Homo sapiens: one gene and its partners. The protein of the gene in region 1 purifies or fractionates together with the protein of each later gene. This does not show direct contact. Each region holds a gene or a part of one and is shown in the gene's direction. Other genes may lie near its edges. The genes, in order: KRT222, CEP164, EPB41, HSPA12A, TACC1, CROCC and CCDC102A.

What was found.
Region 2: the proteins of KRT222 (region 1) and CEP164 purify together in Homo sapiens (affinity purification with mass spectrometry; one large-scale study listed by BioGRID and IntAct). This does not show direct contact.
Region 3: the proteins of KRT222 (region 1) and EPB41 purify together in Homo sapiens (affinity purification with mass spectrometry; one large-scale study listed by BioGRID and IntAct). This does not show direct contact.
Region 4: the proteins of KRT222 (region 1) and HSPA12A purify together in Homo sapiens (affinity purification with mass spectrometry; one large-scale study listed by BioGRID and IntAct). This does not show direct contact.
Region 5: the proteins of KRT222 (region 1) and TACC1 purify together in Homo sapiens (affinity purification with mass spectrometry; one large-scale study listed by BioGRID and IntAct). This does not show direct contact.
Region 6: the proteins of KRT222 (region 1) and CROCC purify together in Homo sapiens (affinity purification with mass spectrometry; one large-scale study listed by BioGRID and IntAct). This does not show direct contact.
Region 7: the proteins of KRT222 (region 1) and CCDC102A purify together in Homo sapiens (affinity purification with mass spectrometry; one large-scale study listed by BioGRID and IntAct). This does not show direct contact.

Annotation. Positions count from the first base shown.
Region 1 is NC_000017.11:40,658,678-40,662,177, reverse strand, and holds part of KRT222 (keratin-like protein KRT222), read left to right. Parts: intron 1-133; coding exon 134-262; intron 263-1,970; coding exon 1,971-2,191; intron 2,192-3,500.
Region 2 is NC_000011.10:117,334,354-117,337,853, forward strand, and holds part of CEP164 (centrosomal protein of 164 kDa), read left to right. Parts: intron 1-280; exon of another isoform or gene 281-451; intron 452-1,251; 5' UTR 1,252-1,327; intron 1,328-3,500. UniProt on the Homo sapiens protein: Plays a role in microtubule organization and/or maintenance for the formation of primary cilia (PC), a microtubule-based structure that protrudes from the surface of epithelial cells. Plays a critical role in G2/M checkpoint and nuclear divisions.
Region 3 is NC_000001.11:29,029,569-29,033,068, forward strand, and holds part of EPB41 (protein 4.1), read left to right. Parts: intron 1-831; coding exon 832-919; intron 920-3,500. UniProt on the Homo sapiens protein: Protein 4.1 is a major structural element of the erythrocyte membrane skeleton. It plays a key role in regulating membrane physical properties of mechanical stability and deformability by stabilizing spectrin-actin interaction. Recruits DLG1 to membranes.
Region 4 is NC_000010.11:116,697,567-116,701,066, reverse strand, and holds part of HSPA12A (heat shock 70 kDa protein 12A), read left to right. Parts: coding exon 1-124; intron 125-2,327; coding exon 2,328-2,432; intron 2,433-3,500. UniProt on the Homo sapiens protein: Adapter protein for SORL1, but not SORT1. Delays SORL1 internalization and affects SORL1 subcellular localization.
Region 5 is NC_000008.11:38,790,236-38,793,735, forward strand, and holds part of TACC1 (transforming acidic coiled-coil-containing protein 1), read left to right. Parts: intron 1-3,500. UniProt on the Homo sapiens protein: Involved in transcription regulation induced by nuclear receptors, including in T3 thyroid hormone and all-trans retinoic acid pathways. Might promote the nuclear localization of the receptors.
Region 6 is NC_000001.11:16,966,931-16,970,197, forward strand, and holds part of CROCC (rootletin), read left to right. Parts: intron 1-1,272; coding exon 1,273-1,488; intron 1,489-2,185; coding exon 2,186-2,410; intron 2,411-2,854; coding exon 2,855-3,004; intron 3,005-3,267. UniProt on the Homo sapiens protein: Major structural component of the ciliary rootlet, a cytoskeletal-like structure in ciliated cells which originates from the basal body at the proximal end of a cilium and extends proximally toward the cell nucleus.
Region 7 is NC_000016.10:57,519,572-57,523,071, reverse strand, and holds part of CCDC102A (coiled-coil domain-containing protein 102A), read left to right. Parts: intron 1-1,895; coding exon 1,896-2,004; intron 2,005-3,500.

The DNA of each region.
Region 1 (3,500 bases):
ATTATAATCTAATGAGTTAAGGAAAAATGCTTTGATTCCTATACAATTTTTCTATAATTGCTTTTACACATCTCATTTTCAGAAGCACTCCTTGTTTTTTGTTTGTTATTGTTGCTGTTGGCTTTCTTGTTAGCTAGAAGAAGACATAAGCAAAAAAATGGACAAAGATGAAGAGGCTTTGAAGGCAGCTCAAGCAGAACTCAAGGAGGCCCGACGCCAGTGGCACCACCTGCAAGTGGAAATTGAATCTCTCCATGCTGTGGTGAGAATGATCCCAAAAGTAACCGACCCATCGAGTCCTCAGATGTGATTTGATTAAGAGAAGGAAAAGATGAATGTCTGTTTATTTACCATGAGAAACTGGAAATCAAGGCCACTGAATTCTATCCCTGATCCTAGTTTAATTACTCACCCCTCCCTCCATTGTGGCAGTGGCTGTTACCAACTCACTCAAGGTTTAGTTCAGACCTGTAAAAATGAAGAAATCCTTTCTTATTACCTTGGGATTTTCTAGTTGCTGAAGATAGGGAATAGAGCATTCGTTATTATCCAAAGTCTTAACAGTGGAGATTCTTTTATCCATGCCATTGAGACGTCGAATAAAAAATATTTAGGCTGACACTGTGGCTTACCCCTGTAATCCCAGCACTTTGGGAGGCTGAGGTGGGCTGATTGCCTGAGCTCAGGAGTTTGAGACCAGCCTGAGCAACATGATGAAACCCCATCTCTATTAAATACAAAATATTAGCCAGGCATGGTGGCACGCGCCTGTTGTCCCAGCAACTTAGGAGGCTGAGGCACAAAAATTACTTGAACCTGGGAGGCAGAGGTTGCAGTAAGCCAAGATCATGCCACTGCACTCCAGCCTGGGTGACAGAGCGAGACTCTGTCTCCAGAAAAGAAAAGGAAAAAAAAAAAGAAAGAAAAATATTTAAGCATGTTTGGAGCAAGGCACAGTTGCTCACGCCTGTAATCCTAGCACTTTGGAAGGCCAAGGCTTGAGGCCAGGAGTTTGAAGCCAGCCTGAGCAACATGGCGAAAACATCTCTCCTAAAAATACAAAAAATTAGCCAGGTATGGTGGCACACGCCTGTAATCCCAGCTACTCTGGAGGCTGAGGCACGAGAATCACTTGAACCCAGGAGGCAGAGGCTGCAGTAAGCTGAGATCATGCCACTGCACTCCAGCATGAGCGACAGAGCGAGACTGTCTCAAACAAACAAACAAACAAAAAGTATTTAAGCATGTTCCTAAATGCCTTTTATGAGCAGTCTGCTCTGGCCTTGATACTCAATGTACTATATTTTCTTTTTTTTTTTTTTTTTTACAAAGCCTACCTCTGAAGTATACTTTCAATAATTTAAAAATCAGATAATTCAGAGTGATAATAAGTTAATCACACTGCAGAGGATTTTTTTTTCAGTAAGAATTATCACAGGATGTCTTTGAAATAGAGTAAGATCTCTAGTTATGTAAATAAAATATAATTTTTTAATAATTAGGGGTCACACAAAGCTGTAAGGAAACACACCTCTTGCATAGGTATAATAAAATTATTGCAATCTTTTTAAAGAAAAAAATAGAACATAGAATGAAGACAGCCAGGCGCGGTGGCTCAAGCCTGTCATCCCAGCACTTTGGGAGGCCAAGGCGGGCGGATCACAGGGTCAGGAGTTTGAGACCAGCCTGGCCAACATGATGAAACCCCGCCTCTACTAAAGATACAAAAAATTAGCCGGGCGTGGTGGCACGCGACTGTAATCCCAGCTACTTGGGAGGCTGAGGGAGGAGAATCATTGAGCCCAGGAGGTGGAGTTTCCAGTGAACCGAGATCATGGCATTGCACTACACTCTGGGCAACAGGGTGAGACTCCATCTCAAAAAAAAAAAAAAGATGAAGATATTGCAAATCAGATTTCAGAAACACATTCTGTGTTACTGATTCACTGATGAAAATCTATATAAAACAGGAAAGGGGCCTTGAAAACTCCCTACATGCCAGCGAGCAGCATTACCAGATGCAGCTGCAAGACCTAGAGACTGTGATTGAAGGACTAGAAAAAGAGCTACAGGAAGTAAGGCGCGGCATCGAAAAGCAGCTTCAAGAGCACGAGATGCTTCTCAACACGAAGATGAGGCTGGAACAAGAAATAGCAACTTATCGCCACCTCCTAGAAAAAGAAGAAATCAGGTACCTAAATCCATTTAGTTAATGACAAGGGGCCAGAAATACAGAGCCACTTATGCCATTGTTGATGTAGTCAGAGAAATTAAATCCAAAAACCCCATCATCATCATGGTGTACTCACTGAGCCCATACAATAAGGTATGCACTGCAAAGAATATATGAAAGAACCATTTCTAGTCTTCCAAAATTAGGAACCAAACAGCCAAAGTCACCTAGAACAAAATGTAAACAATTCTAGATTACTACAAAAATGATCTTGTAGTCTTGGCCAGCTGCAGTGGCTCACTGCTGTAATCCCAGCACTTTGGGAGGCTGAGGCAGGAGGATTACTACAGCTCAGGAGCTCAATACCAGCTTGGGCAATATAGTGAGACCTCATCTGTACAAAAAATTTTAAAATTCGCTGAGCATGGTGGCACACACCTGTAGTCCCAGCTACTTGGGAGGCTAAGGTAGGAGGATTGCTTAAGGAGTTTGGGATTACAATGAGCTAATCATGAAAAAGACCTTTCCTGAGCTGGGTGCAGCGGCTCACGCCTGTAATCTCAGCACTTCGGGAGGCTGAGGTGGGCGGATCACCTGAGGTCAGGAGTTCAAGATCCGCCTGGCCAACATGGCGAAACCCTGTCTCTACTAAAAGAAAAAAACAATAATAATAATACAAAAATTAGCCGGGCATGGTGGTGCATGCCTGTAATCCCAGCTACTCGGGAGGCTGAGACAGGAGACTCGCCTGAATCCAGGAGAGGCAGGTTGCAGTGAGCCGAGACTGCGCCACTGCACTCCAGCCCAGGCGACAGAGTGAGACTCCACCTCAAAAAAAAAAAAAAAAGAGAGAGAGAGAGAGAGACCTTTCCTAACTTTCTCACTTTCCTTGCCATTCATCTCTTCTAGGATTAGTCTGTGCCTTCTAAGGATCACCCATAACAAAAGCCTGGAAAATTCACAATCACCACAATCCCCCTGATCAAGGGCTCACCCTATACCACACATCAAACCTCAAAACAGTAATCATTACTCTAACGTAATTATATTACAACCACGGAAAGCAATATTATTTTGAGTCATGATTTAAAAGACTACCAGATATCCTGATAGGAAAAGATATCAAAAGAGGAATTCTTGTTAATTCATACATCATAATCTGTAATGACTTATAAGGTCATATTGCTTTGAGCATGACATAACCTCCAATTCTCCATGAAAAAATCTTTATTCTTGCTTGCTTCCAAATTCTAAGTCCTCTATAAAACTAGATGAAAACTAGGTGAAACAACTTTAGCCTATAATAAATCTTGACATTTATTAAATC
Region 2 (3,500 bases), on another chromosome or scaffold:
TTTTCTAGAGCCTGATAAGGTAAGGAAAGAAGGTAGAATACAACCCACCCATATTTTAATTTTTTTCTGGCAGAACATTTATTTGAATTTGGATGATCCATGAATTCAGATTTCCCAGAGTTTTCCTGATCTTTAAGTAGTTAAATATATCGCCAGGTGCGGTGGCTCCTGCCTGTAATTCCAGCACTTTGGGAGGCCAGGGCCGGTGGATCACCTGAGATCAGGAGTTTGAGACCAGCCTGGCCAATGTGGTGAAATCTAATCTCTACTAAAAATCCAGAGATTAGCCAGGCATGGTGGGGGTGCCTGTAATCCCAGCTACTCGGGCAGCTGAGGCAAGAGACTAGCTTGAACCTGGGAGACAGAGGTTGCAGTGAACCAAGATCGTGCCACTGCACTCCAGCCTGGGTGACAGACTGAGACTTCGTTTCAAAAAAAAAAAAAAAAAAAGGTAAATATAGATCATTATGTATATAGCAAATTAGTCTTGTTGCCATGTGGACAGAGACTACCTGTCCTGTGCTTGCTGGAGATGGGATGCATCTAGGGGATGACATTTCTCAAATGCAGAATTTCTCAAATTCTCTGAGGTAGTTAAGATAGTACCTCGTATAGAGCACATGCTTGGGAAGTGCTTATTCACCCTAATGTTCAGGCCACCATTGGGCCCTCCCTGCCCGTGGATCCTTTCCTTTTTTCTTCTCCTCTCCCTAAGAGGATTAAAGATTCAGGTGACTCTGTAAGCCACCAGGCAGTGGGCCCCATCTGCCACCCGGGTTCCTGGTCCTTTTCTGCTCAGCTTTTTAGTCAGCAGTGGTCAGGCCTGCGTCGCCTCTGACTGTGTGTGTAGCACAGTGGGGCATCATGTCTGCAGGATGTTACGGGTTCTTCTGAGGGTTGGGAGCACATTCCCACTTCAGCTTATGTACTGTTGAAAGAAGCCCTTTTCCTTTGGTGTTTTCTTCCTGCTTGGAGGTGGCATGGTGGGAATGAGGGGCAGAAGCTGGCTCCCTTCAGGTTCAGTGCACTGACAAAGGGAACCATGTCTTGTGAGTCCTAAGGCAGGACTCCTCTGTTGCCCACCCGTTAGCTGTCATGGTACAGAGGGGGGCCATAGTAAACAATCCCTGATGGATCCTTTGTTGCTTGTCAGGGGTCTCTAGGAACCTTGGAATAGGTTCAGAGTCTCCAGATCCAGCCATTTCCTTTCTAGGCCAGATCTTGACTTTTTTTTTTTTTTTTTTCAACCAGGAGAAATAACTTTATTTGGACTGAGAGCTGGAGAATGAGAATAGGACCTGAGAGTATATTGGGCTAAGGAGGAGAGGTAAGGTTCCAAAACGGCGGTCAAAGCTCATCGACTAAACGGACTCTACTTCCCACCAAACTTGCAGTTAGTGCAACCAACAAAAGGCCTGCTGGGGAATGTATTTGCCACTAAATTCCCCAAGTATGCCAACATTACAAAAAAGATAGAGGTTTCTAATCATAATTAAATTTCCACAAACCTCCCCAATCACAAGTATTATAAGCAGAAGTAAAAAAAAATCACATTTTACAGATCTCAAACTTGTCTTCAATATTTAGTTCATCATCTTCAAAAAAATAGCTCCCCTGCTAAACTCATTAGCTATCTGATCTATCCAAGCAGCAAGAAGATGGCCAGGCCATGGCAATCCTCTTCCCATTTTCCCTATCCATTCAGGGCTCAACAGCAGGGTGAGGCTCAGGTTGGGGGTGGGGTGGGGGGAGCACAAGGGCTACTTTCCCCCAGTACAACATGGCTTCTGAAGCTTGATGGGAGAGCAGAACTGGTGAGACTTGAGGGAAGGGTCCAGGGCCTGTATTCAGTCAGAATCGCTGCTGGAAGAGGAGGAGAAAGAGGAGGAGGAATGCTTGCCATGCTTTTGGTGCTTGTGCATCTTTTTATGAGCTTTCTTCATTTTATTCTGCATCTTCTTGTCCGCTGTCACTGCTGGTCTGACCATGCCAGGAGCCAAGAGATTCACAGGAGGGATTCCAGGGGCAGGCGGTGGGTATGGAGGAAGGTGGGGACCCGAGGATTGGCATCCTGGATACCCTGGCTGTGGTACAGGATGAGGGGCCCCACCTGGGAGGAAAGCTGGATTGCCCTGGGGAACTCCTAGGGGAGGAGGACAGGGGCCTGGGGGAAAGGGTGGATTGATAGGTGGTGGGTGGGCAGGATTGGAACCTCCAGGGCACCCAGTGTTGGGGGATATGGATTTGGCCCTGGCTGTCTGGCATTGGGATTCCACATGTTTAGGTGTGTCCTCCAGCCTTTCCACGGCTGCCTGGGCTTGATGCGTTCTACCAGATCCTGATGTTTTTAATGGCTGGGCCTTTCTGCTTGAAGAGGGCCGTTTCATCCTTGCTGCTCCAGGAGGAACAGTGGCAGCTTCTGAGGAAGTGGGGACTGGAGAGGTCAGGACTTGTGGCTCCAGACTCCTGTTGGTCACATTTGGTGTGGCCAACTGCTCTGCAGGTTGGGGAGGTGCTCTGAGCAGGTCTGTGTGTGGCAGCAGTTTCCCAGGCGACTTCCTTCATCAGGCTGCAGCATGGGAGCTGCCATGGGGAGAGTTGGTGGGAACTGGGGTCCTGAGGTAGGGGTGGGAAGAGAGGAGCAATTCTAGAAGTGCACCAGCTTCTCAGTTGAAGAATTTGGCACCGCCCCATCCCTGGAGCTAGAAACCTTGGATTCAAGCTGGACTTCTGTCTTCGCTTGGGCTGCCGTAACACAATACCGTAGACTGGGGGGCTCCAACAACAGAAATCTCTTTTCTCATAGTTCTGGAAGCTAGAAGGCCCATATCAAAGTCTGTTGCTGGTTCCTGTCTTGCAGACAGCTGCCTTCTTGCTGTGTCCTCAGATGGTAGAGAGAGACCTCTAAGCCACTAGACAGTGGGCCCCATCTGCTGCCCTGGTTCCTGGTCCTTTCTTCCTCTCCTTTTAATCCTATCAGGCCATTTAACCTTAATGACCTCATTTAACTTTAATTACCTCCTAAAGAACCAGTCACATTGTGGATTAGGGCTTCAATATGTGTATTTTTCTTACTTTGAGAGGCTGAGGCGGGAGCATTGCTTGCACCCAGGAGTTCAAGACCAGCCAGGGCAACATAGTGAGACACCATCTCTGTAAAAAAAAAAAAAAGTAAAATATATACATATGTGAATTTTGAAGGGATGTAGCTCCTTTCCACTTTTCCCCCATATCCTGGTCCTATTAAGCTTAACATCACTGGGTCTGTTCTGACTGTCTCTTCTTCATTCCCCTGCTTCTGCCCTAGTTAAAGTCCTTATCATCTCGCCCCTGGGCAGCAGCCTCCTCAGGTGGTTTTCCTGACACCAGTCTCTCATTTCTCCAATCCAGCCATGCCAGTCTTGCCAGAATTCTTGTCCTAAAAAAAGGCCACCCTGTGATACTTTGTTTCACCAGAGCCCTCAGTGACTCCCCTCTGGTGTAGGACAGGGTGGAGGCTC
Region 3 (3,500 bases), on another chromosome or scaffold:
GATTGGTCTGAATTGTGCAGCATTAGGAGTGATATTTTTGTCTTTGAAAGCTCTATATAACAGCTCATGAACACTTTTCAAAAGACGGGAAATTTATAGAGGAGAAGAAAAGACTGTCACAGCGAGTGTTTAGACAGTGAGACTGACTGTTTTCAAACAAATCTAATTCATTATATGCCTGGTAATGAAGACATATTAATAACAGAGAAAACAGCCCCATTATCTATGTGCTTCCGTGAACCAGTTTATTTTGTTTATATCAGTGGGCAGGACACCATCTGTTACCAGAAATTTTCTTTTCATCAAGCCTGCCCCGATTAAGAGTCCTCAGTTAAGTAACATCAGCTGCCCTCTTGTTTAATTTCCATAACTCAATTCAGGGGTATGGAGAGAAAAAGGCAGCTATAAGAGGATATTGTAAATTACACCATGCCCTCTGAGGATTTAATTTGGTCATCTCCTTGGCAAGAAAAATTAGCGGGAGGAGCTTATGTATGTCGGAGAAAAAGAGTGAAGAGAAGGGGGCAGAACTAATGATAGATGAAATAGCTTTAAGGAAATTGTTTAGTAGGATTAAAAAAATTTTTTTTGCAGCTTTTTGGTGACTTTTTGTTTGCTCACATTGTCTTTTTCTAAGGTATATTTTAATTATTTAGATACAGGCAGTGATGGGTTCTGTTCCATAATAACCTACTTTCAGGACTAGGAAATATATCTTAATATAGTGGTATGTATATGTTCATGTGTTTAAAATACAGTGAATATATAAATGTTACTGTAAATGATGACACTATAACACTGAAAGAATTTTATGTTTTTATTCTATCAAAGGTCCATGACTCCAGCTCAGGCTGACTTGGAGTTTCTTGAGAATGCCAAAAAGTTGTCTATGTATGGAGTTGATCTTCATAAAGCAAAGGTAATGATAACTTTGCCCTTTATTAATATGCATGTGGAAGATATTATATGATACATGTCTGTTATGTATGTATCACATCTGTGTCATATAATACTTTTTAACAACATCTGGGGTATTTTAAAACATTCAAAAGAGATAGTAGACTGGGCACAGCAGCTCATGCCTGTAGTCCCAGCTACTGGGGAGGCTGAGGCGGGAGGATCACTTGAGTCCAGGAGATCGAGCGTACAGTGAGCCCTGATTGTGCCACTGCACTCCAGCCCTGGCGACAGAGCAAGACCCCGTCTCAAAAAAAAAAAAGAGAGAGAAATAGTACTTCTTGTTAGCTTTTTTTTGTTTTGTTTTGTTTTTTTGAGATGGAGCCTTGCTCTGTCTCCCAGGCTGGAGTGCAGTGGCATGATCTCGGCTCACTGCAAGCTCCGCCTCCCAGGTTCACGCCATTCTCCTGCCTCAGCCTCCTGAGTAGCTGGGACTACAGGCGCCAGCTACCACGCCTGGCTAATTTTTGTATTTTTAGTAGAGACGGGGTTTCACCGTGGTCTCGATCTCCTGACCTCGTGATCCGCCCGCCTCGGCCTCCCAAAGTGCTGGGATTACAGGCGTGAGCCACCGTGCCCGGCCTCTTGTTAGCATTTTAAGTGTATCAGTTAAATCAGTCAACTGTATCAATTGAATTTGCCCCATAGCAATTCCACCCTCAGAATAAAGTTTCATATCCAAGCTACTGTTAAGATCAAAAGATAGCCCCTAGAGAAAAAGAAATTGATTTTCCTAACATGCAGTAACATTTGAAAATATAGAGCAGTGGGCAGCAAGTCCTGTTTCACAGCCAGCATCACCTACATCGAATCACTGAGGATGTTCATTAAATATGTAGATCCCTGAGCTTCTCTCAGATGTATGGAATTAATTTGGAGGCGAGGTTCTAGAATGTCTTGGTTTAATGAGCACCCAAATGATTCTAATTCATGCCTGAATCTGAGAACCACTGGCCTAGAGTAGTGGTTCTCAAAGTATGGTGTCTGAGCCAGCAACATTTAACATCACCTAGGAACTTGTTAGAAATGCACATTTCAGGCCCCATCCCAGGCCTGCTGAGTTAGACTCTCTGGAGGTGGAGCTCAGCAATCCATTTTAAGTTCTCCAGGTTGTTCTGATGCACACTGAATGAACCACAGTGGCTCATTCAAAAACCACTTGGGTAGGGCCCTGGAAACTTGAGCTTTAATCCTAGTTCTACCTAATACAGCCTAACAGAATGAATCCTTAAGGAAAGTCTCCTTACTTCTCTCTTCTTCAGCTACTAAAGTTGCTGGGGAGGTCCAGTGCCAGGCGTGGTGGCTCACACCTGTAATCCCAACAATTTGGGAGGCTGAGGCGGCCGATCGCTCAAGCTCAGGAATTCAAGACCAGACTGGGGAACATGGTGAAATCCCGTCTCCATAGAAAATACAAAAAATTAGTCAGGCATGGTGGCACGTGCCTTTGGTGGTCCCAGCTACTCAGGAGGCTGAGGTGGGAGGATTGCTTGAGCCCAGGAGGTAGAGGCTGCAGTGAGCCTAGATTGCACCACTGCACTCCAGCCTGGGTGACAGTTGAGACTCTGTCTTAAAAAAAAAAAAAAAAAAGAAAAAAGTTGTTCTGGATTATTTTGGGCTGGGTACTACAACTTCTATGAATCTCTAAAGTATATTGTAGGAAGATCAGTACATCAGATTAGGTATGTTTCTAAAACTGAAATGGTTAGATTTTGCTTCACAATTCCTGCTGGAAGCTGGTGTCAATTCAGGTATTGATGGAGTCAGGCAGCATGTTCCCTTCCCAAATATTGTAAAGCAAATTGTTTCTCCAAAGTGAAATGTAGTTATACCCACAAGCTTTAAAAATTTAAGAGGGCATCTTCTGGGAAATTCTCAGTTACATAGTCACTGAATTGGAACTGTATGTAATTCCTGCTTCTCTGTTATAACACGTGTAGGCACTAATATATTTCTCTATACTCATTTTGGGGGAAAGAGTAGTCAAGAAGCATTTAACTTTGTGTTTTGATTACTTAGCTAAACAAACTGTTAGCTGTAGGGACTAACTTAGGTGAAATTTATTTTCTTTGAATTATAGACATAGATGATTAATATTACATATTTAATTTTTTAAAGTTGTCTTTAATAAAGAGGCATATAAATATGATTTCATTGTGCCTTAATGTAACTTCTTGACTTAGGGATCATATTTTTAATTTAATATACTTAACATCAATTTTAAGAACCTAAGATTGTCTTATGCTGAGTTTATATAGGAATAGAGTCAACTCCTACATTTAACATCATTTCTGGAGCTGTTAACACTTTATCATAAAAAAACAAGAATTAATAATTGTGCGTGTATATTTGGTAGTATACATAGCTCTAAGCCCTGCTCTCCAGGAAGTCATGACTGCTGATTTAAACATAATAGGTCCATAAATTATAACTGTTAGGCTGAGCTTTATTTTTCATTGTATGTTTTGTAACTGTTTTTGGTTGTTATCTTCAGATTATCTAGTAATAGTCAACAGTGTATTGAGTACTTTGCTCCAGACTGA
Region 4 (3,500 bases), on another chromosome or scaffold:
TCCCGAGAGGAAGTTCCACAGCTTCGGGTATGCCGCCAGGGACTTTTACCATGACCTGGATCCCAATGAGGCCAAGCAGTGGCTGTACCTGGAGAAGTTCAAGATGAAGCTGCACACCACTGGGGTGAGCAAGCCTCTCCCCTGGGCCCAGGTCCCCCGCAATGGAGTGCCAAGCTTCCTCCAGCCTTGGGGTGGGGAAGGGATGTCCTCCCAACCCAGGGGGCCCTCTGGTCTCTTCCAAGCAGAAATCAGTGTCCATTTACCTTGATTTTAGACACAACCTGGAGCACACAGTGCTTTTGTGGAATATGCGATGCTTTCCAATGTGCATGTGGGCAGGGAGATATTCTGAATATTTAACAACTCGTTTGTCTTGGAAATGGACCTATCAGAGTAGACCCTGGTTATACCAGGGAAGTGGGGTGCTGGGGCCCTCCTGCTGTGCCAGGAGTTCTCCCTTTAGTTTCTGGATTATTGAGAGATCAGTGTATCATGAAGGATCCACTTGGGGGCTAGGGACACATGGCGAGCTCAGGGCAGTAGCTCTTAACTAACCAGTTTGGATGTAACAACCAGTAACAACTGGTACATCCAGCTCTTTATGTGGGGAGGGGGAGCTCAGGACATCAAGTGCCCAATAATTGGAGGTCCAACTCCCTGAGTGGTGTCCTCAGCTCCCAGCAAGCCAGTGTTCCATAAGACACCTACATCAAACAGGCACCCCCTGCCACCCCGAAGCTTCGTAGAAAAGGATAGGGCATAGGACAGAACTTTTTTGAGTTAAGCATTTTATTCCATAAAGTTTCCTTAACTGTCAGTGCTTAGAAAGGCAGGATGATGATGATGTTTAAGAACACGGACTCTGGGGCCAGATGGCCTGGGTTTCAATCTGGTCACTGGTACCTTTGAGAAATGTAATCCAAGTTATGTAACCCCTCCCTGCCTTGTTTTATCTTCTCTGTCAAATGGAGACAATAGCAGTGCCTTCCTCATGGGGATTTTGTAGGGATTAAAGGAATCAAAATACGTAAAGCTCTTAGAGCCATGCCTGGTGCAGATTAAGTTCTAGTCAAGTGCAAGCTCCTATTCTAATTGCTTTCATTTGTCTGCTGAGCACTTGCAGATGACAAAGCAAACATAAGTGGGAAACTCAGCAGCCAGCACCCTGCCTTTCAAGGCTCTGTGCCCATCGGCGTGGTTGTCCTTCTATGGTGCAGACCAAGTTCTGCTAGAAATGAACTGTTCCTATTTTGCCTAATGGGATTCAATGCTGAGTATCAGGATGGCAGGTGGAAGGAAGCACAGGGATTTTTTTCAATTCAGAGCCATGGTTTCCTGGCACTTGACCACCTTTCTGAGCCTGGGAGCTGCTGCCCTAAAGCTGGGGTATCTTTGTTGGGCACCAGGAGCAGAAGGCAGCTGGCTGGGAGGAGTGAGCAAGTGCAGATAGGTCAGGATGCCACAGACGGGCTCCACATGGCTAGCTTAGTAACTCAATGCCCGTTTTCACTCCCAAGGCAAAGCATAATTACCCAGCCTGGGACAATCTGGAGGCCCCAGTGATTTTTTTCCCCCTGGCAGTAATGAGTTTGTTGGTTCAGGAGACCTGGGGGCTTCCTCCTGATTTTTGCTCTCACTCCCTGCCCATCCCTACCCCACAGGGACTTTTCTCATCATTTTTTAATGATCTCCGTCCACCAGCATCTAGGCTCTGCAGAGCATCCTCTCTCTGGGACCACACTCAGCAGCTGCTTTCACTTTTGGTGGAGAGAGGAAAGCAGTGATGCTGGGCTCCTGGCGGATTAGATAGGGCAAGCCTTAAAATAGGAGCTCTTCTATTTTGGTGACTTGGTTGGCAGCGTAATGGGGAATGAAAGCTTCGTCTGTTTAGCATCGTGGATGGCAGTGGGTTGGTACGATTAGGCCTCCATCAGGGGGGATCCTGAGCGTGACCATGTGTGTTCGAATGTGGAAATTGTACGGAAATTGCATGGGGAGTGGCACCTGCTGCCTATTCTCTCTTCCTGACTTCTACTGTTGCCCCTGAAACCTTTGCTCCCAGAGGATCCAGGAGCTAGAGGGAGAGAAGGAGGGAGCAGTGAAGGTGGGGCCTGGAGGGGACAGCCAGAGCCTCCTACACAGTAAGGGGACACTGCTGCCAGCCCCCATTTTGGGGGATGCGCCATCCTAGTCTGCCTCTTTAAGCATGGGGGAACACAGACATGGCTCACCAGGATCCTCTAGGTCCCCTTGGAGCAGTCCCCAAAGCCAGGAGACATGTTTCTCCTGTGTCATCTTCTTACTATTGTTCCTCTTCCTCCTACCAGGACCTCACCATGGATACAGACCTGACGGCAGCAAATGGCAAGAAAGTCAAAGCCCTTGAAATCTTTGCTTATGCCCTGCAGTACTTTAAGGAGCAGGCGCTGAAGGTAGGACTGATAGTTGAGGCCAGCCAGCTGTGTGCTAGGCGGTGGCACCCGTGCCAGCTCCGTGTCTCGGGCTGCTGCACCTGCTGGCCAGGGTAGGAGGCACAGCCTGGAGGGAGAGTGTGGGCTTTGGAGTCAACACAACAGGATGAACCCTCACACGCTGCTGGTGGGAAAGTAAAATGGTGCGGCCTCTTTGGAAAACAGTTTGGCAATTCCTAAAAAAGTAAAGCACAGAGTTACCGTAGGACCCAGCAGCTCCACTCCTGGGTGGAGAAATGAAAGAAATCCCTAAGAGAAATGAAAGAAGAAATGAAATCCCTAAGAGAAATGAAATCCCTAAGAGAAATGAAAGAAGATGTCCACACACACGTATACATGAATGTGCATAGCAACATTATTCATAACTGTGAAAAGTAGAAACAGTCCACATGCTGTCCACACAAACACACGTATACATGAATGTGCATAGCAACATTATTCACAACGACGAAAATCGGAAAAAATCCACATGCCCATCCACTGATGAATGGAGAAACAAAATGTGATCTATCTTACAATGAATGTTATTCAGCCAGAAACAAAATGTGATCTATCTTACAATGAATGTTATTCATCAGTAGGATGAACTACTGATACATCCTACCACATGGAGAAACCTTGAAAACGCCATGTGAAGTGAAAGAAGCCAGATACAGATAGCCACATAGCATGTGATTCCAGTTCTATGAAATGTCCAGAACAGGCACCTTCACAGAAACAGAAAGCAGAGACTTTTTCTGCGCAGGGCTGCAGGGAGTGGGAATAGGAGCGACTGCTGAAGGATATGAGTTTCTTTGAGGAGTGATGAAATTAGGTAATGGGGTTGGGCGCACAACCTTGTGAATATACGAAAACCCACTGAACTACACACTTTATAACTGGGAATTTTATGGTATGGAAATTATATCTGAGTAAAACAAAAAGAGAGGCAGGAAACATACTTAGCAGCTGTGCCATTTTGGTCAAGGTACTTAATCTTTCCAAGATCCACTTTCCTAACTGGAGAGTGGGGTGGGTAACTGTACCTCA
Region 5 (3,500 bases), on another chromosome or scaffold:
TGCCCTTCCTGTGAGGACACCAGTCGTTGAAGTTAGGGCCCACCCTAATCCAGTTTGACCTCATCTTAACTTGGTAACATCTTCAGAGATACTATTTCTAGATAAGGTCACATTCATAGGTACTAGGAGTTGGGACTTTAACATATCATTTTGAGAGACATAATTCAGCCCACAACAGAGAGCTTTGAACAGAGGGATTGTGATTCAGCTTCTTTTGTAAAAGGCTCCCTGGGCTGCTGTGTGGAGAAGGGACTCTAGGATGGAAGTCCTTTTTATGTGGTTTCTCTGTTCCAGTATCTGGCACTGTCACCCTGAAGTGGCAGCGCCAGCTTTCAGTTATCTAGCTACCTAAACTTTGTGCTGATTGTGACTTTCTCCTCTCCCTAATAAGTATTTTTATTGCTTAGCAACTTCTTCGTAGGTTGCCTAGGGAAGTCAAGTTACTCTGGTAATAGACTGCATGATGGAGCTGGAATTATTGGTAAAATGACATCAGCAAAAAGCTGATTTGGTTTTGCTTTAAATTGATAGCTCCATGCTGTGCTTACCCAGCTGAGAATTCAGCAATACCCTCAACTTGCCCTAGGCTGCATTTTGCCATTGTTCTAGGCAGGGACAACATGGGAATAGGCAAGCTTATATACTGGAGAATTTGTGTGCGACGCATAGCTGTGTAGCACTCTCAGTGATGAAGATAACACTTATTCCTCATAGCTTCCCTTTTCTTCCGTAAAGATTGGCAGATCAGAAGGGAGATTTTGAAGCTTGAAAGAACTATTTGGTGGCCTTTCCATCAAATTTAAATAAAGCTCATAAGACACATGTTAAGGAGCTGTTTGAAAGCCTTTTTGAATTGCCATCAGCTTGGGCGGCCCTTCCTCATCGTTTTGTCAGCTGCTAGACTGATTCATCCCGCCAGATTCTTTGCCAATTGAATAGAGGCCTGGATGACCTAGGCCCCCAAAACCACAGAGACCCAATTGTTTGGTCCTTCCTGTACCAGTGACTCTCACATTTTTTTCATTCTCTCTAAAAGGAAAACTTTTAAATGTTTATGGATCATGAAGGCTCTATGGGGTAGTTCATGAATGCAGACTGTAATTGTAGGGGTAGAGGAGTGTCCAGTCCAGGAAACAACCCTGCATATTATGAAGGCTTTCAGTTTAGGGTCTTTAAACAATAGGATGATTGCTCATCAACCTGGTCGTACCCTGACTTCCAGGGTCCTTGGGTGCAACATCCGGAGCTAGTCCAGAGTACCGCCAATGGCCTTGTCACACATACACAGCAAATGTGCAAAGACAGCCAGAGCACAGGTCTGCCTGGAGAGGATTTCAGTGGGCAGAAAGCCCTTCAGAGTCATTTCATATTGAAGTTTAATTTCTGGGACTGGATAAGTTCCCTTTCTCCCAAAATTATTGATTGTTTTGTTCCTGGTAAAGATAGTCTTTCATACTTTTGTGGTTCCAAGACATGGTTGGACCGCAGTTATAAATTATATAAGACTAAATCATTCTGGAAGAATGATTTACGAGGAGTTAGTCAGGAGTTGGAGTTGAAATATGTAAACATTCTGGCTTCCTGGTACATAATGGCCCTCAAACGTGTGGGCTACATTTACCATACCCATGGCTCCTGTGCTGACTTCTGTATAGTTCTTTGAACTCAGGGAAACATCTAAGACTATTTTGAAATGACTTTTCTTATACTGGAACTGCTTTAGGAACTTGCAGTATCTAAACTCTATAATGACTCTTCCTAAGAGTTGTATGCCAGGAGTTAAGTGGCGGATAAGGTTGTAGATTTTTTTTGAAGCCACATATAGAAGCAGGTTTTAGGCTTACTGGTAAAATAAAACTCTAGCTAAAGATATTTCCTGGAAATAACCAGACTGGTAGCTGTAAAGCTTGGGCTGGTCTGTATTTGCTATCTGTCTGTTTTCTCCCACTAAAGTTGTTTAATGCTGCTGCTGTTGTGGTGGTCTTTCTCTTTGCTGGGAAATATATTGGTGAAGAAACATCCTCTAGGAATGGACTTTTGAGGAGGTACAATCTCAAGTTCATCCTCTGTTTTGTTTTGCTTTGAGACAGGATCTATGTCTAGACTGGAGTGCAGTAGTATGATCATAGCTTACTGCAGCCTCCAACTCCTGGGCTCAGATGATCCTCCTGCCTCAGCCTCCTGAGTAGCTGGGACTATAGGCACACACTACCATGCCTGGCTAATTTTTTGTTTTGTTTTGTTTTTTGAGATAGAGTCTCGCTCTGTTGCCCTGGCTGAAATGCAGTGGTGCGATCTCGGCTCACTGCAAGCTCCGCCTCCTGGGTTCACGCCATTCTTCTGCCTCAGCCTCCCAAGTAGCTAGGACCACAGGCGCCCACCACTACGCCCAGCTAATTTTTTGTATTTTTAGTAGAGACGGGGTTTCACCGTGTTAGCCAGGATGGTCTCGATCTCCTGACCTCGTGATCCGCCCGCCTTGGCCTCCCAAAGTGCTGGGATTACAGGCGTGAGCCACCACGCCTGGCCAGTTTTTTTATTTTTTGTAGAGATAGGGTCTTGCTATGTTGCCTAGGCTGATCTCGAACTCCTGGCCTAAAGGGATTCTCCTGCCTCACCCTCCCAAAGTCCTGGGATTACAGGCGTGAGCTACCATGCCTGGCTTTTGTGTTTGCATGTGTGTTTATGGAGGACTTAGGGGTTGTGGCTTTGTGTAGCTGTTTCAGTCACAAAAACTGCAGTGGGTGCCCTCTGCCCCTTGAGTTTCTCCTTCACCAACATAGCCCCCCTTCCCCAAACACACACACCTTTATCTACAGATTGTTACCTCTCTCTGAGAAAGAGAATCTTAATTAGTGTAGAAGCTCTCACATCACCCTTGGAACAACTCGTTAAACCTCTCCAGTTTGATGTGTTAATTAAATGCCTAGGTATTTCAAACACAAACTGTAGTTCTCTGGACTTTTCCCCAGAATAGAAGAAAAGAGATAAATGGGATCTGTGCACAGATATTTACTGCCTCAGGCCTGTGAGGGAATGCCAAGTTGTTTGTTGACACAATTTTGGTAGTCTCGATCAGAATCAGCAAACTGTGACTCATAGACCAAGCCCTGCCTGTCCTGTTTTTTTGCATGGCCCTGAACAGAAGAATGAGTTTTACATTTTTTGATGGTTTAATGGTGATGTGTGAAAATAATGTGAAATCCAAATTTCAGGGCCCATCAATGGTCACACGATTATGTGAATTTACTAAAAACCATTGCATCATATATTTTAAAGGGTGGACTGTATGGTTTGTGAATTATATCTCAATAAAGTAGTTCTTAAAAAAAAACAAAACAAAATTTCAGGGCCCATCAAGTTATATATATATGAAATATATATTTTGGTAGATATGGGGTCTTGCTATGTTGCCCAGGCTGATCTTGAGCTCCAGGGCTCAAGTAAGTGATCCTCCCACCTCAGCCTCCCAAAATGCTGGGATTTCAGGTTTGAACCAC
Region 6 (3,267 bases), on another chromosome or scaffold:
TGTAGTCCCAGCTACTCGGGAGGCTGAGGTGGGAAGATCACTGGAGCCCGGTAGGTCGAGGCTGCAATGAGCTGTGATCATGCCACTGCACTCTAGCAAGGCAGAGTGAGACCCTGTAAAAAAGAAAAGAAAAAAAAAAGAAGAAGAAGAAGAAAAGAAAGAGAGCTTGGGCTTTGGGCTGTCATCTGCCTGGTTTTCATTTTCCTAATCTGTAAAAGGAGGAGCAGTGATTACGTCACAGGGTGACACACACAGGCTCTTATCACAGGTGGTACTCAGGGGGCCTCTGTTTTATGTCTCTGTAGTTCTGGGGTTTTTATGTGTGTTTGGGGGACAGCTATGTGTGCCAGTGTGTATGTGCGTCTGTCGGGCAGGAAACTCAGGCCCTGGTGGTGACAGTGCAGCCAAAGCTCCCCTCTGCCCTCCCCAGCCTGTCCCTCTATTACTGCTTCCCCCCACCACCCCCGCCCCCAAGGCCTCTGGCCTGGGGCCGAGCTTAGCTGGATTGTTGTGTCTGCGGCTTCAACCCTGGCCATGGGCCCAGCCGCAGGGGCTGCAGGAGGAGGCCAGGAACAAAGCTGGGCAGGAGCCAGAGTGGGGGCCCCAGACAGGGCAGGGCTGGGGCTCTGGGCAGGGTGGCAGAGGGGCCAGGCTCAGGATAGGGGCTGGGGAGGCTCTAATAACACCCCCTGTTGATCCACCCTGTCTCTAGGATAGTACCAGGGATGGGAGGACCCCTAGTCTGCCTTCCTGTCCCATCCCCACTCCCCAGGCCTTTTTCACTGGCTGACCCTGGGCAGGGGAGGGGGAATCACCACCTGAAACCCTAGAACAGCAGGGCCCCCTCAGAACTGTCCGGCTCAGCTCAGTTTGCACGAGTCAGTGGGGCAGGAGAAGGGCCTTGGAATCTGCATTTCTACAGCCCCTCCTCAGGGCTCCTGTGAGCACCCAGGTTGTGGTACCCTGGGACCAATCCAGTGTCCCTACTGTACAGATATGAAATGGGGCCATAGGGCGCGAAGGGGCAGTCCTGGGTTCCACAGCCCATTGGCCTGGGCTAAAACTGGAAGGTGGGCTCTGGGATCTTCACGTCCACTCATCCTGGGAACGCATGGGGAGACCGAGGACCCCAGAGGGTCCCAGGCCGGCCCCAGGTCACGTAGGTCACCCTTCGAGGCTGCTCCCCACTTTCCCCCTAAGGGCCCCAGGGCGTGTGCGGGAGGGCTGCGGGGTGCACTGGACGTCTGGGCCTGAGCCCCATGCCACCTGCAGGAGAAGATCAGCAAGATGAAGGCCAATGAGACAAAGCTGGAGGGCGACAAGCGGCGCCTGAAGGAGGTTCTGGACGCCTCCGAGAGCCGCACTGTCAAGCTGGAGCTGCAGCGGCGCTCGCTTGAGGGGGAGCTGCAGCGCAGCCGCCTGGGCCTCAGTGACCGCGAGGCCCAAGCCCAGGCCCTCCAGGATCGGGTGGATTCCCTGCAGAGACAGGTGGGCCCCTCCCCAAATCACAGCCACAGTGTTCACATGCCCTGTGCCAAGAGCTTTGTAGGCACTACGCAGTCCCCCAACAACCCTGTGAGGCAAGTATTACCCACATCCCCATTTCACAGATGGACAAATGGAGGCTGAGAGGTGATGTCATTGTCTAAGATCCCATAGCTAGTAAGAGGCAGAGCCAAAATTAGAATTCAGGACTATTTGATGACAGCATCTGCATACATAGGAGTCATCTGGGACAAGTTAGAGATGTAGGTTTCACTCATTTCCCTTTTTGCCTTGACTGCTAGGAAGCTCAGCTCTAACTGGAATGTTAAATAATACGGCTAGCCTTGCCTGAACACCCAACAAGGTCAAAAATAAAAAAATTTTAGGGTCGTGGTGGTTTCCCTTTCTCTTCCACAGCAGAGAGGAGAGAGGAGTGAGGACAGGGAGGAGACCAGGGAGTCTGAGACAACTAGGTTGATGGCACTCTGGGCACTAGTAGTTAGCCAGCAATGGGATGGGGCCCAGGTGGCAGTAGGCTGAGCCAGCAGGAGTGCTTAGGAACACTGGGTCTCAATGATGGAGGCCCAGAGAGAAGTGGGAAGGGTGTGGATTGGGCATGCCAGGTGGAGGTCACAGTGGGAGCAGAGGTATAGAGGCCAGATGGGAACAGCCCCGATTGTTCTGGCTGTCCTCCTGCCAGGTGGCCGACAGCGAGGTGAAGGCAGGGACCCTGCAGCTGACCGTGGAGCGGCTGAATGGGGCCCTGGCTAAGGTGGAGGAAAGCGAGGGGGCCCTGCGGGACAAGGTGCGGGGCCTGACAGAGGCCCTGGCCCAGAGCAGTGCCAGCCTCAACAGCACCCGGGACAAGAACCTGCATCTGCAGAAGGCTCTGACCGCCTGTGAACATGACCGCCAAGTACTCCAGGTCTCGGGCCCAGGGTCTGGCTGGGGTGGGCCCAGTGAGAGAGTCAGCCAGTAAGAGCAGGCTTGGAGGGGGGCCCTGGTAGAGAGCCAGCCAATGGGGCAGTCAGTTGGAGCCAATGAGAGCAGGCTTTGAAGGGAGGGCGTGGGCCCAGTAGACCATCAGCCAAGGAGAAGAGGCTCTGGGTATGTCCCGTAAGAAGACAAGGCTACTGGTATAGACTTGGGGGGACCCAGGGGCAGGGTTTATTGGGGAGAGTTGGGGTCTGAGTGGGTCCCACCTTATGCAGGTCAGTGGATAGGCCGTGGATGGGTTTGGTGTGCACCCCACCCTCCAGGTGAGATGACTGCCTGTTTTATGCTCTGTGGACCTGTCCAGAGGTACAGAATAGAGAGGACTCCTTAGGGCTCCCAGGCCAGCCAGGCACCATCAGCCCCTGTCCCCCAGGAACGGCTGGATGCCGCCCGGCAGGCATTATCTGAGGCACGGAAGCAGAGCAGCTCCCTGGGCGAGCAGGTGCAGACGTTGCGAGGCGAGGTGGCTGACCTGGAACTGCAGCGGGTGGAGGCCGAGGGCCAGCTACAACAGCTACGGGAGGTGAGGGCCAGGGTGTGCCCCCTCTGTCCCCAAGACTGTGAGGCCCTAGGATAGGGTGGGGACGTTCCCACCCATCTCAACCTCATCCCAAACCCTGGTGCAGCCTCCAGTAAGGAAACATGGTTCATTCAGAGCATAGTCCTGTTATACAGATGGAGAAACAGACTGAGAGAGACAGGTTTGGCTTCAGGTGACAATTCTCTGATGTGGGCCTCACCGTCGCCTGCTCTGTGAGTGGGCCAGCCTCATTGTCCCCAAGCTTC
Region 7 (3,500 bases), on another chromosome or scaffold:
TGTCAGCCTCCCGAGTAGCTAGGACTACAGGCACACACCACCACGCCCAGCTAATTCTTCGTATTTTAGTAGAGACAGGTTTTCACCATGTTGCCCAGGCTGCTCTCGAACTCCTGAGCTCAGGGAGCCCACCTGCCTTGGCCTCCCAAAGCGCTAGGATTACAGGTGTAAGCCACTGCGCCCAGCCTGAAAGTAACTTAAAATACACGTGTTGTGATATGGGAGTGCTTGGGCATAGCTCCTCTAGAAGAAATGGTGAAGTGGTCAGAGTGGGTGTCTTTAAATGGGATGATAGTGACGATAGTTATAACAGCAAAGACATAGCATGTGCTCCGAGTCAGGTGTTGTGTTGAAGGCTTACATGTATCTGCACATTTAAGTCACCTCGCAGGACAGCTACAAAGGCGGCTCATGCAGGTGTGCAGACTTAGCAACTCAAAGACACAAGTGGTGTCACTGCGATGCGCTTTCTTGAGAGATGAACAGCCTTTGGTAAAGTTCTGAACAAAGCAAAGTGCAGCCGGGCACCGTGGCTCATGCCTATAATCCCAGTACTTTGGGAGCTCGAGGTGGCAGGATCGCTTGAGTCCAGGAGTTCCAGGTTGCAGTGAGCTGTGAACAGACAGGAACAGGGTAGTCTTTAAGAGATGAGCCTGGGGTACAGCAGGAGGGAGGTACTTGCCCAGAGATGCCCAGTGCTCTGGAGCCCTGACCACCTCCCCACAATATGAGCTGGGCACTTGCACTTGGGTAGGGAGTGCAGTTCCAGGGAGTGAGCTGTGATCTGCACTCCAGCCTGAGCAACAGAGCCAGATCCTCTCTCTAAAAACAAAGAAAAGTGCAGTCTTCCTTCAGTTTATACAGTGATTCCATTCCTAGAAAATTCAGTGTATGTTAGTATAAAAATTACTTTCTGTTTCAATGTAAATCAGAATGAGGCTGTAGGCTCAGATCATCTCTACCCCGAGCAATGTCCAGTGGGCTGTGCATGCATTCAGTAGGATGCAGGATGCATCCTGATGGGCAGGACGCCCAGGGCATTGCAGGGAGTCAGGCACCCTGGCCCCCGTCCACTAAATGACCCCTAATCATTGTGATAGCCAAAAATGTTGCCATGGGTTTTCAACATGCCTCCTACAGGGTGACGTTGTCCCCTCTGGGAACCCCATGTTGGAGGCATGGAGTGTTCCACTTTCAGAGAGAGAGGCCAGTGTGGTGTGGGGTCATGAAGGGCAGCGTGCTGGAAGGTGATGCTGAGCTCAGCCATTGGTGAGCACCTACTCTGCCAGGGCCAGGCATCATGCTTGTTACCTACAGTGCCTTATTCAAGATCAAGGCAGGGTGGGGGTTATGGGAGGATGTAGGGATCCCACACAGTGTCGATGGCAAGAGAGAACCCTCTCTTCGGGTCACTGGACAGTGTTTTCCAGTGTTTCTATCTGCAGAACCATGTGTTCAGACCAAGCCTTGCAGGGAACATAGTCTACAAAACAGACAGGAGCAGGGTGGTCTTTGACAGCTCTTCGAGAAGAACAAGGTGGGCCAAGGAGTGGAGTGGCCAGTGCTGGGGCCGCCACCTCCTGGAGCCATTTTCAGATGAGCCTGAGGTGCAGCAGGAGAGAGGTACTTGCCCGGGGATGCTCAGTGCTCTGGAACCCCGACCACCTCCCCACAATGTGAGCTGGGCACTTGCACTTGGATAGGGAATGCAGTTCCAGGAGAACTGCAAAGCCAGGGTGCTTCTAGCCACATAGGGTGCCTGGGCCTGAATACCAAGGCAAGGATTTTGGACTTGGGCTCAACAAGTGCAGAGGGCACACAGCAGGGCCACCCTTGGTGAGGACTCCAAGCAGAGGGCCTTGGTGGGCTCACCCCCATGTCTGTCCCTTCCCCAGGGATAAACTGGCGTTGAGCAGGAACATTGAGAAGCTAGAGGGGGAGCTCAGCCAGTGGAAGATCAAGTATGAGGAGCTGAGCAAGACCAAGCAGGAGATGCTCAAGCAGGTGAGTCTTGGAGACCAGAGGGTCTTCCTGGAGGCGGCAGGATCGCGCTGTTGAATTTCAGTAGTGGAGATGGAAGAGAGAATTCATTCATTAATTCATCCAACAGTTGTTCTTTTTTTTTTTTTTTTGAGACAGAGTCTTGCTCTGTCACCTAGGCTGGAGTGCAGTGGTGTGATCTTGGCTCACTGCAACCTCCACCTCCCGGGTTCAAGCGATTCTCCTGCCTCAGCTTCCCGAATAGCTGGGATTACAGGCACCCGCCACCACGCCCGGCTAATTTTTGTATTTTTAGTAGAGACAGGGTTTCACCATGTTGGCCAGACTGGTCTCGAACTCCTGGACCCAAGTGATCCTTCTGCCTCGGCCTCCAAAGTGCTGGGATTACAGGTGTAAGCCACAGTGCCTGGCTTTATTTTATTTTAATTTTATTTATTTTTATTTATTTTATTTTATTTTATTTATTTTATTTTATTTATGTTATGTTATGTTATGTTATGTTATGTTATGTTATGTTATGTTATGTTATGTTATTTTTTCTGAGTTGTTCTGAGTGCTGGGCAGGCAAGGTCCCTGCCTTCAGGAGCTCACTTTGTGGGGGCTGTGGGCATGGGAGACCGACAGTCACCAGGCAGATTCATAATTTATGAAGGAGTCAAAACAGAATGAGAGAGATGGGGTGGTAGGTCAGGGAAGGCCTAAGAAGGTGGCATTTGAGGCAAGACCTAAAGGGGCTAGAGGAAGCTGTCCTTGAAAAGATACAGGGGAGAGTGTTCCTGGCAGAAGGCACAGCGGTGCAAAGGTCCTGAGGCAGGAACAAGCCCAGCGTGTGCGGGAAACAGGGAGGGCCAGGTGGCTGGAGAGCAGGAAGTGAGAGGCGAGGCCGCAGGAGGGGGCCTTGTAGACCAGGATGAAGACGAGGAGGCTGGATGTGGCATTCATTGGGTTCCTATCTGTACTAGGTGTCACTGAAGCCTCATGGCAGCCCAGGGAGCTGGGTCCTCATGTCCCCATCTTACAGATAGGGAAACTGAGGCTCCAGAGAAGGGAATCCACCACTGCAGTGTGGGGGCTCAGAGCAGGCTGAGCTGCCACTACGGCCTCCTGTGCAGGCCTCAATGGCCACCAGAGGGCGCAGCCACCCAGGGAACGCCACACTGGATCGGTGGGTTTCTAGCAGCTGGGAGGATCACAGAACTTTAGAGCCTGAAACTGTCCTGGAGGGGACCAAGACTGGTCTTACATGAGAATCTCTGAGGAAATCTCCTAAAATACAGATTCCCAGACCTCGCCTCCACCCTCCTGAATCAGCACCTTTCAGGGCTGGGTCCAGGACCCTGTTCTTTTAGTCTTTTCAAATTATGAAGTATAATCATTCGAAGAAAAGCGAATGAAACACAAATGTACAATTTAGTAGAAAATTATAAAGGTTCTCTTTTGTATCTGGTGTCTCTCCCTCAACATTATGTGTTGAAAACTCATCCGTGTGTTACAGGGAG